2 linked regions of the Homo sapiens genome follow. The protein of the gene in region 1 purifies or fractionates together with the protein of each later gene. This does not show direct contact. Each region holds a gene or a part of one and is shown in the gene's direction. Other genes may lie near its edges. The genes, in order: MAST4 and LEMD3.

The links.
Region 2: the proteins of MAST4 (region 1) and LEMD3 fractionate together in Homo sapiens (co-fractionation; one large-scale study listed by BioGRID). This does not show direct contact.

What each region holds. Positions count from the first base shown.
Region 1 is NC_000005.10:67,162,582-67,166,400, forward strand, and holds part of MAST4 (microtubule-associated serine/threonine-protein kinase 4), read left to right. Parts: intron 1-25; coding exon 26-207; intron 208-565; coding exon 566-3,819.
Region 2 is NC_000012.12:65,235,490-65,239,308, forward strand, and holds part of LEMD3 (inner nuclear membrane protein Man1), read left to right. Parts: intron 1-3,012; coding exon 3,013-3,092; intron 3,093-3,179; coding exon 3,180-3,325; intron 3,326-3,819.

The sequences.
Region 1 (3,819 bases):
ACAATTTTTTCCTGTTTTTCTGTAGGAGGAGATCTCTTTTCAAAAAGCTAGCCAAGCAGCCTTCTCCTTTACTCCACACCAGCCGAAGTTTCTCCTGCTTGAACAGATCCCTGTCATCGGGTGAGAGCCTCCCAGGTTCCCCCACTCATAGCTTGTCTCCCCGGTCTCCAACACCAAGCTACCGCTCCACCCCTGACTTCCCATCTGGTGAGTGAGTCTCCTGGTCTAAACAGCAGAGGGGAGGGGAGGTAAAGTCATGTGAGGTCCCCAAAAAACATGAAGCTTGTTCCAGCTGAAAGAAAGCAGGTTGAAGGTGTAAATTATAAAGACAGATTTATAGAGAGGTCATAAGATGTGGCTATTCTGACCAAACAAATAAGTCAAGAAGTATGGGGCTAAACCTTGGCCTGGAGAGGTTTATCTGAAAAGTGTTTATTCCACTAGCTAAATGCTGAGACAATTTGCTGATCTTACCTGGCCTTACCTAATACAGTCTGGGCTACAACTGTGAAAAAAAGGGGAAAATGACCATGGATGCTCACAGCCTTCTGTTTTCCATCCACAGGTACTAATTCCTCCCAGAGCAGCTCCCCTAGTTCTAGTGCCCCCAATTCCCCAGCAGGGTCCGGGCACATCCGGCCCAGCACTCTCCACGGTCTTGCACCCAAACTCGGCGGGCAGCGGTACCGGTCCGGAAGGCGAAAGTCCGCCGGCAACATCCCACTGTCCCCGCTGGCCCGGACGCCCTCTCCAACCCCGCAACCCACCTCCCCGCAGCGGTCACCATCCCCTCTTCTGGGACACTCACTGGGCAATTCCAAGATCGCGCAAGCCTTTCCCAGCAAGATGCACTCCCCGCCCACCATCGTCAGACACATCGTGAGGCCCAAGAGTGCGGAGCCCCCCAGGTCCCCGCTGCTCAAGCGCGTGCAGTCCGAGGAGAAGCTGTCGCCCTCTTACGGCAGTGACAAGAAGCACCTGTGCTCCCGCAAGCACAGCCTGGAGGTGACCCAAGAGGAGGTGCAGCGGGAGCAGTCCCAGCGGGAGGCGCCGCTGCAGAGCCTGGATGAGAACGTGTGCGACGTGCCGCCGCTCAGCCGCGCCCGGCCAGTGGAGCAAGGCTGCCTGAAACGCCCAGTCTCCCGGAAGGTGGGCCGCCAGGAGTCTGTGGACGACCTGGACCGCGACAAGCTGAAGGCCAAGGTGGTGGTGAAGAAAGCAGACGGCTTCCCAGAGAAACAGGAATCCCACCAGAAATCCCATGGACCCGGGAGTGATTTGGAAAACTTTGCTCTGTTTAAGCTGGAAGAGAGAGAGAAGAAAGTCTATCCGAAGGCTGTGGAAAGGTCAAGTACTTTTGAAAACAAAGCGTCTATGCAGGAGGCGCCACCGCTGGGCAGCCTGCTGAAGGATGCTCTTCACAAGCAGGCCAGCGTGCGCGCCAGCGAGGGTGCGATGTCGGATGGCCGGGTGCCTGCGGAGCACCGCCAGGGTGGCGGGGACTTCAGACGGGCCCCCGCTCCTGGCACCCTCCAGGATGGTCTCTGCCACTCCCTCGACAGGGGCATCTCTGGGAAGGGGGAAGGCACGGAGAAGTCCTCCCAGGCCAAGGAGCTTCTCCGATGTGAAAAGTTAGACAGCAAGCTGGCCAACATCGATTACCTCCGAAAGAAAATGTCACTTGAGGACAAAGAGGACAACCTCTGCCCTGTGCTGAAGCCCAAGATGACAGCTGGCTCCCACGAATGCCTGCCAGGGAACCCAGTCCGACCCACGGGTGGGCAGCAGGAGCCCCCGCCGGCTTCTGAGAGCCGAGCTTTTGTCAGCAGCACCCATGCAGCTCAGATGAGTGCCGTCTCTTTTGTTCCCCTCAAGGCCTTAACAGGCCGGGTGGACAGTGGAACGGAGAAGCCTGGCTTGGTTGCTCCTGAGTCCCCTGTTAGGAAGAGCCCCTCCGAGTATAAGCTGGAAGGTAGGTCTGTCTCATGCCTGAAGCCGATCGAGGGCACTCTGGACATTGCTCTCCTGTCCGGACCTCAGGCCTCCAAGACAGAACTGCCTTCCCCAGAGTCTGCACAGAGCCCCAGCCCAAGTGGTGACGTGAGGGCCTCTGTGCCACCAGTTCTCCCCAGCAGCAGTGGGAAAAAGAACGATACCACCAGTGCAAGAGAGCTTTCTCCTTCCAGCTTAAAGATGAATAAATCCTACCTGCTGGAGCCTTGGTTCCTGCCCCCCAGCCGAGGTCTCCAGAATTCACCAGCAGTTTCCCTGCCTGACCCAGAGTTCAAGAGGGACAGGAAAGGTCCCCATCCTACTGCCAGGAGCCCTGGAACAGTCATGGAAAGCAATCCCCAACAGAGAGAGGGCAGCTCCCCTAAACACCAAGACCACACCACTGACCCCAAGCTTCTGACCTGCCTGGGGCAGAACCTCCACAGCCCTGACCTGGCCAGGCCACGCTGCCCGCTCCCACCTGAAGCTTCCCCCTCAAGGGAGAAGCCAGGCCTGAGGGAATCGTCTGAAAGAGGCCCTCCCACAGCCAGAAGCGAGCGCTCTGCTGCGAGGGCTGACACATGCAGAGAGCCCTCCATGGAACTGTGCTTTCCAGAAACTGCGAAAACCAGTGACAACTCCAAAAATCTCCTCTCTGTGGGAAGGACCCACCCAGATTTCTATACACAGACCCAGGCCATGGAGAAAGCATGGGCGCCGGGTGGGAAAACGAACCACAAAGATGGCCCAGGTGAGGCGAGGCCCCCGCCCAGAGACAACTCCTCTCTGCACTCAGCTGGAATTCCCTGTGAGAAGGAGCTGGGCAAGGTGAGGCGTGGCGTGGAACCCAAGCCCGAAGCGCTTCTTGCCAGGCGGTCTCTGCAGCCACCTGGAATTGAGAGTGAGAAGAGTGAAAAGCTCTCCAGTTTCCCATCTTTGCAGAAAGATGGTGCCAAGGAACCTGAAAGGAAGGAGCAGCCTCTACAAAGGCATCCCAGCAGCATCCCTCCGCCCCCTCTGACGGCCAAAGACCTGTCCAGCCCGGCTGCCAGGCAGCATTGCAGTTCCCCAAGCCACGCTTCTGGCAGAGAGCCGGGGGCCAAGCCCAGCACTGCAGAGCCCAGCTCGAGCCCCCAGGACCCTCCCAAGCCTGTTGCTGCGCACAGTGAAAGCAGCAGCCACAAGCCCCGGCCTGGCCCTGACCCGGGCCCTCCAAAGACTAAGCACCCCGACCGGTCCCTCTCCTCTCAGAAACCAAGTGTCGGGGCCACAAAGGGCAAAGAGCCTGCCACTCAGTCCCTCGGTGGCTCTAGCAGAGAGGGGAAGGGCCACAGTAAGAGTGGGCCGGATGTGTTTCCTGCTACCCCAGGCTCCCAGAACAAAGCCAGCGATGGGATTGGCCAGGGAGAAGGTGGGCCCTCTGTCCCACTGCACACTGACAGGGCTCCTCTAGACGCCAAGCCACAACCCACCAGTGGTGGGCGGCCCCTGGAGGTGCTGGAGAAGCCTGTGCATTTGCCAAGGCCGGGACACCCAGGGCCTAGTGAGCCAGCGGACCAGAAACTGTCCGCTGTTGGTGAAAAGCAAACCCTGTCTCCAAAGCACCCCAAACCATCCACTGTGAAAGATTGCCCCACCCTGTGCAAACAGACAGACAACAGACAGACAGACAAAAGCCCGAGTCAGCCGGCCGCCAACACCGACAGAAGGGCGGAAGGGAAGAAATGCACTGAAGCACTTTATGCTCCAGCAGAGGGCGACAAGCTCGAGGCCGGCCTTTCCTTTGTGCATAGCGAGAACCGGTTGAAAGGCGCGGAGCGGCCAGCC
Region 2 (3,819 bases), on another chromosome or scaffold:
AACCAACCGTGGATCAAAAATCTTAGTGGCAATAAAAAGAAAAAAAGTACAATGGAAAAAATACAGATTTTAAAAATACAGCTATCTATATTCATTTATATTAGGTGTTATAAGTAATCTAGAAATGATTTAAAGTATAAAGAATGATGTGCATAGGTTATATGCAAATACTATGCAATTTTATATCAGGGACTTGAACATCTGTGGATTTTGGTATCCATGGGGCATCCTGGAACCAATCCTCTGTGAATACTGAGGTATGACTGTATATATAAATTAAATGTTGTAGTTTTATTTTTTTAAGCAGATAGCTGTTTAGCTCTCATCATGATTATTTCTAAGTTCATAATATCCATTGAAATGATCTCATATATAAACCTTTTTTCAATCATTAAATACATTGTCTGCAATTTTTTTGATGTTTGTAAATGCTATAATAAACACCCAAGCTTAAAAAAACAGATGGCCTATAGTTATCTTCACCATCTTAAAAATCCTAATAGTAGTTTCATGTAATGATGCCTAACAAGATTAGTTCTGCTTTATAAAACTTTTTATTACATTTGCAAATTTGATACATTAGAATAACTTACCAGTTTTATATTAGGAAGTAAACTATACTGATCAAATGAAAACCTTATAATTTCCAATGCTGTTGAAGAATCTGTTGATAAAATACAATAGGACACTTCTTAGAAAAATCTTTTTTTTAGAGAGAATTTGAAATGACTTTTTATTTCTGTTTTTAGAAATTCATTTTTTCCTCTACGAGCCAGGCACAGTGGCTCATGCCTGTAATCCTAGCACTTTGGGAGGCCAAGGCAGGCGGATCACTTGAGGCCAGCAGTTCGACACCAGCCTGGCCAACATGGCGAAACCCCATCTCTACTACTACTAAAAATACAGTGATTAGCTGGGTGTGGTGGCACACGCCTGTAGTATCACAGTTACTTGGGAGGCTGAGGCACAAGACTGTGCTTGAGCCCTGGAGATGGAGGTTGCAGTGAGGCGAGTTCGCACCACTGCACTCCAGCCTGGGTGACAGAGCAAGACTCTGTCTCAAAAAAAAAAAAAATTCATTTTTTGCTCAAAAGGGACATAAAGACATACTAATAATACAAGCTCCATGAACACAGGGAATTTTTCACTGTGTTGTTTATGCTGCACCTCTAGTTTCTAAAATAGTACTTGGCACATGGTAAAGGTGTTTATAACAGTATTATATTTGATAAATTTTTAAAAATTGGACATATTCTAAATGTTCATTAATAAGGTGTTGATTAAAAGTATAGAATAATCATACAATGGAATACTATTTTGTTGAAAAAAATAGGGTTTTTTCCATGTAAACTGACATTGACACAATATTTTGTTCCATGAAGAAAACAAGTAGAACAGTAGTATGTGTAATATGATACCACATTTATTTTTACTATTTTAATTTAAAAATACTCTACCCACACATAGCAGTTCTTAAGCTTTTTGGTTCCCTATAATTACTGAGGACTCTGGCTTTTGTTTGTGGGAGATATACATTTATATGTTTTTGTTTCTATTAGAAAGATATATTTACTTTCTAATGGTAAATATGTATTACAAATACATGTTTATATTAAAAATTAAAACTGAAAAAAATTTATGTATTTAGAATAAGAAAAATGAATCTATTATATGTTAACGTAATGTATTTTTATGAAAAATAACTTTTCCAGAATGAAAACATTCAATGAGAACAGTGGCATTGTTATATATTTTATAAATCTCTTAAATGTGTAGCTTAATAAAAGGTGACTGGATTCTTATCTGCTTCTTTATTCAATCTGTCATGATGTTTTAGTTGAAGTATGTCATGAAAATCCAGCCTCACATTGATATGTAGTCAAAACATTGGAAAGTATTTTAGTTGCCTTTTCAGGTAATTGTAGATAGATATTTTCTTTGATACCATACCAAACCTCTATAAGTAGTAGTTTCTTAAATGTTAGTTGCAATGTGGAATGTCAGACTGTGCCAGTGAACTTTTTGTACTCTTGTCTCATAAAATCCTTTTATTTTGTACTTTGAATGGATCTTTTACCTATGCGTGATTGGTTTTTATAAAAATCAGAATTTTTCAAATGCATTGGTCATTTTCAGATGCATTGGTCACATTTCATTATTCCATATCAAAAAACTGCATTTGTTAATGTCACACAAATCTCATTGGAAAGGTCTTCAAGTATTGTGAAGTTGTCCAGGTCACAAAGATGAATGCTAGTTTTTCAAAATTCTACTTTTTACTTGAATGCTCAAATCTTATAATTGGTAACCCGGTCAGTTTTTCTTTAGTTGATAGGCTTACTGCTTTTATGTGTTGAGAATACTTGTCTGTGAAACATCCAAATCTGGAAGAGTTTGCCATTTATTTGTTCATCTATAAATAATATTGCATTTTTAAAAGTGGTAAATTCACTCTTATGATGGCACTGATAAACTAATGATAAAAAAAGAACTTCCAAGCCAGGCGCAGTGGCTCATGACTGTAATCCCAGCACTTTGGGAGTCCAAGGCTGGCGGATCACTTGAGGTCAGGAGTTTAAGTCCAGCCTGGCCAGCATGGTGAAACCTCGTCTCTCTAAAAGTACGAAAAAAGAAAATTAGCTGGGCCTGGTAGCTGATGCTTGTAATCCCAACTACTTGGGAGGCTGAGGCAGGAGAATTGCTTGAACCCAGGAGGCGGGGGCTGCAGTGAGCCAAAATTGTCCCACTGCACTCCAGCCTGAGTGAGAGAGACTCAGTTCCCAAATATGTAAAATATAAAAAAGCAAAATATTAACACTGATTATATTGGAGTAGTGGGAAAATGCTAACTTTTTTTTTCTTTTTTCTCATTCTTTTTAAAATTTTCTGTAATGAATATTTTATGTTATGTAGTTAAAATAAAAATGTTATATAGAGTGTGTTATAAAGGATACTTTACAGAGAGTCGAATGTAGATTAAGAATAGTTATTTTTCTCTATTTTTCTTGTTAGGATTTAGGTCCTGAATATGAAGGTATATTTAACACTTCATTGCAGTGGATCTTAGAAAATGGAAAAGATGTTGGAATAAGGTAAAGGATCTGATTTCCACTTTGACCATTCTGTACTGGGAGAAATGGTTTTTGACTTTAAATTCTACCTTACTTATTTTTAAATAGGTGTGTTGGTTTTGGCCCTGAGGAAGAATTGACAAATATAACTGATGTGCAGTTTTTACAGTCCACAAGACCACTGATGTCTTTTTGGTGTCGTTTTCGACGTGCTTTTGTTACTGTAACTCACAGATTATTGTTGTTATGCTTAGGTAAGTTGTAAAGATAAGAAATGAGATAAATTGCAGCCTGAATTTTTGTGTGTATTTCACTAAATGCCAGAGTTGAGAATTCATTTTTGTGATGGTTGCCACATAAGTCACAGCTAGATGTCTTCACTAAATATAATAAAAATAATGTCAGAATCATTCTAAAGGCTTAGAAAGCAGTAATATAAGGAGAGGTAGAAATAAAACTTTGTTATAAGACTGTCACAGAAAAACAAGTGTGGTCAGTATATACATAGAAATCTACTTTAGAAAGTAGAATTGAAAAATACAAAAATTGAGCTTATTTTTAAATAATAAAGTGTTATAAAGTTTATTAAAATTTAGTTTTTAAAATGTAATTTACCTACATTTAAAATTTTTATCATTTTTTAATTGATAATAGGGATTTAGGTGAGAGTTGTTTTTTCATTCTTTCTTTCTTCTTTAAAAATAATTCATTTTGGCCAGCTTTAGTGGCTCACACCTGTAATCCCAGC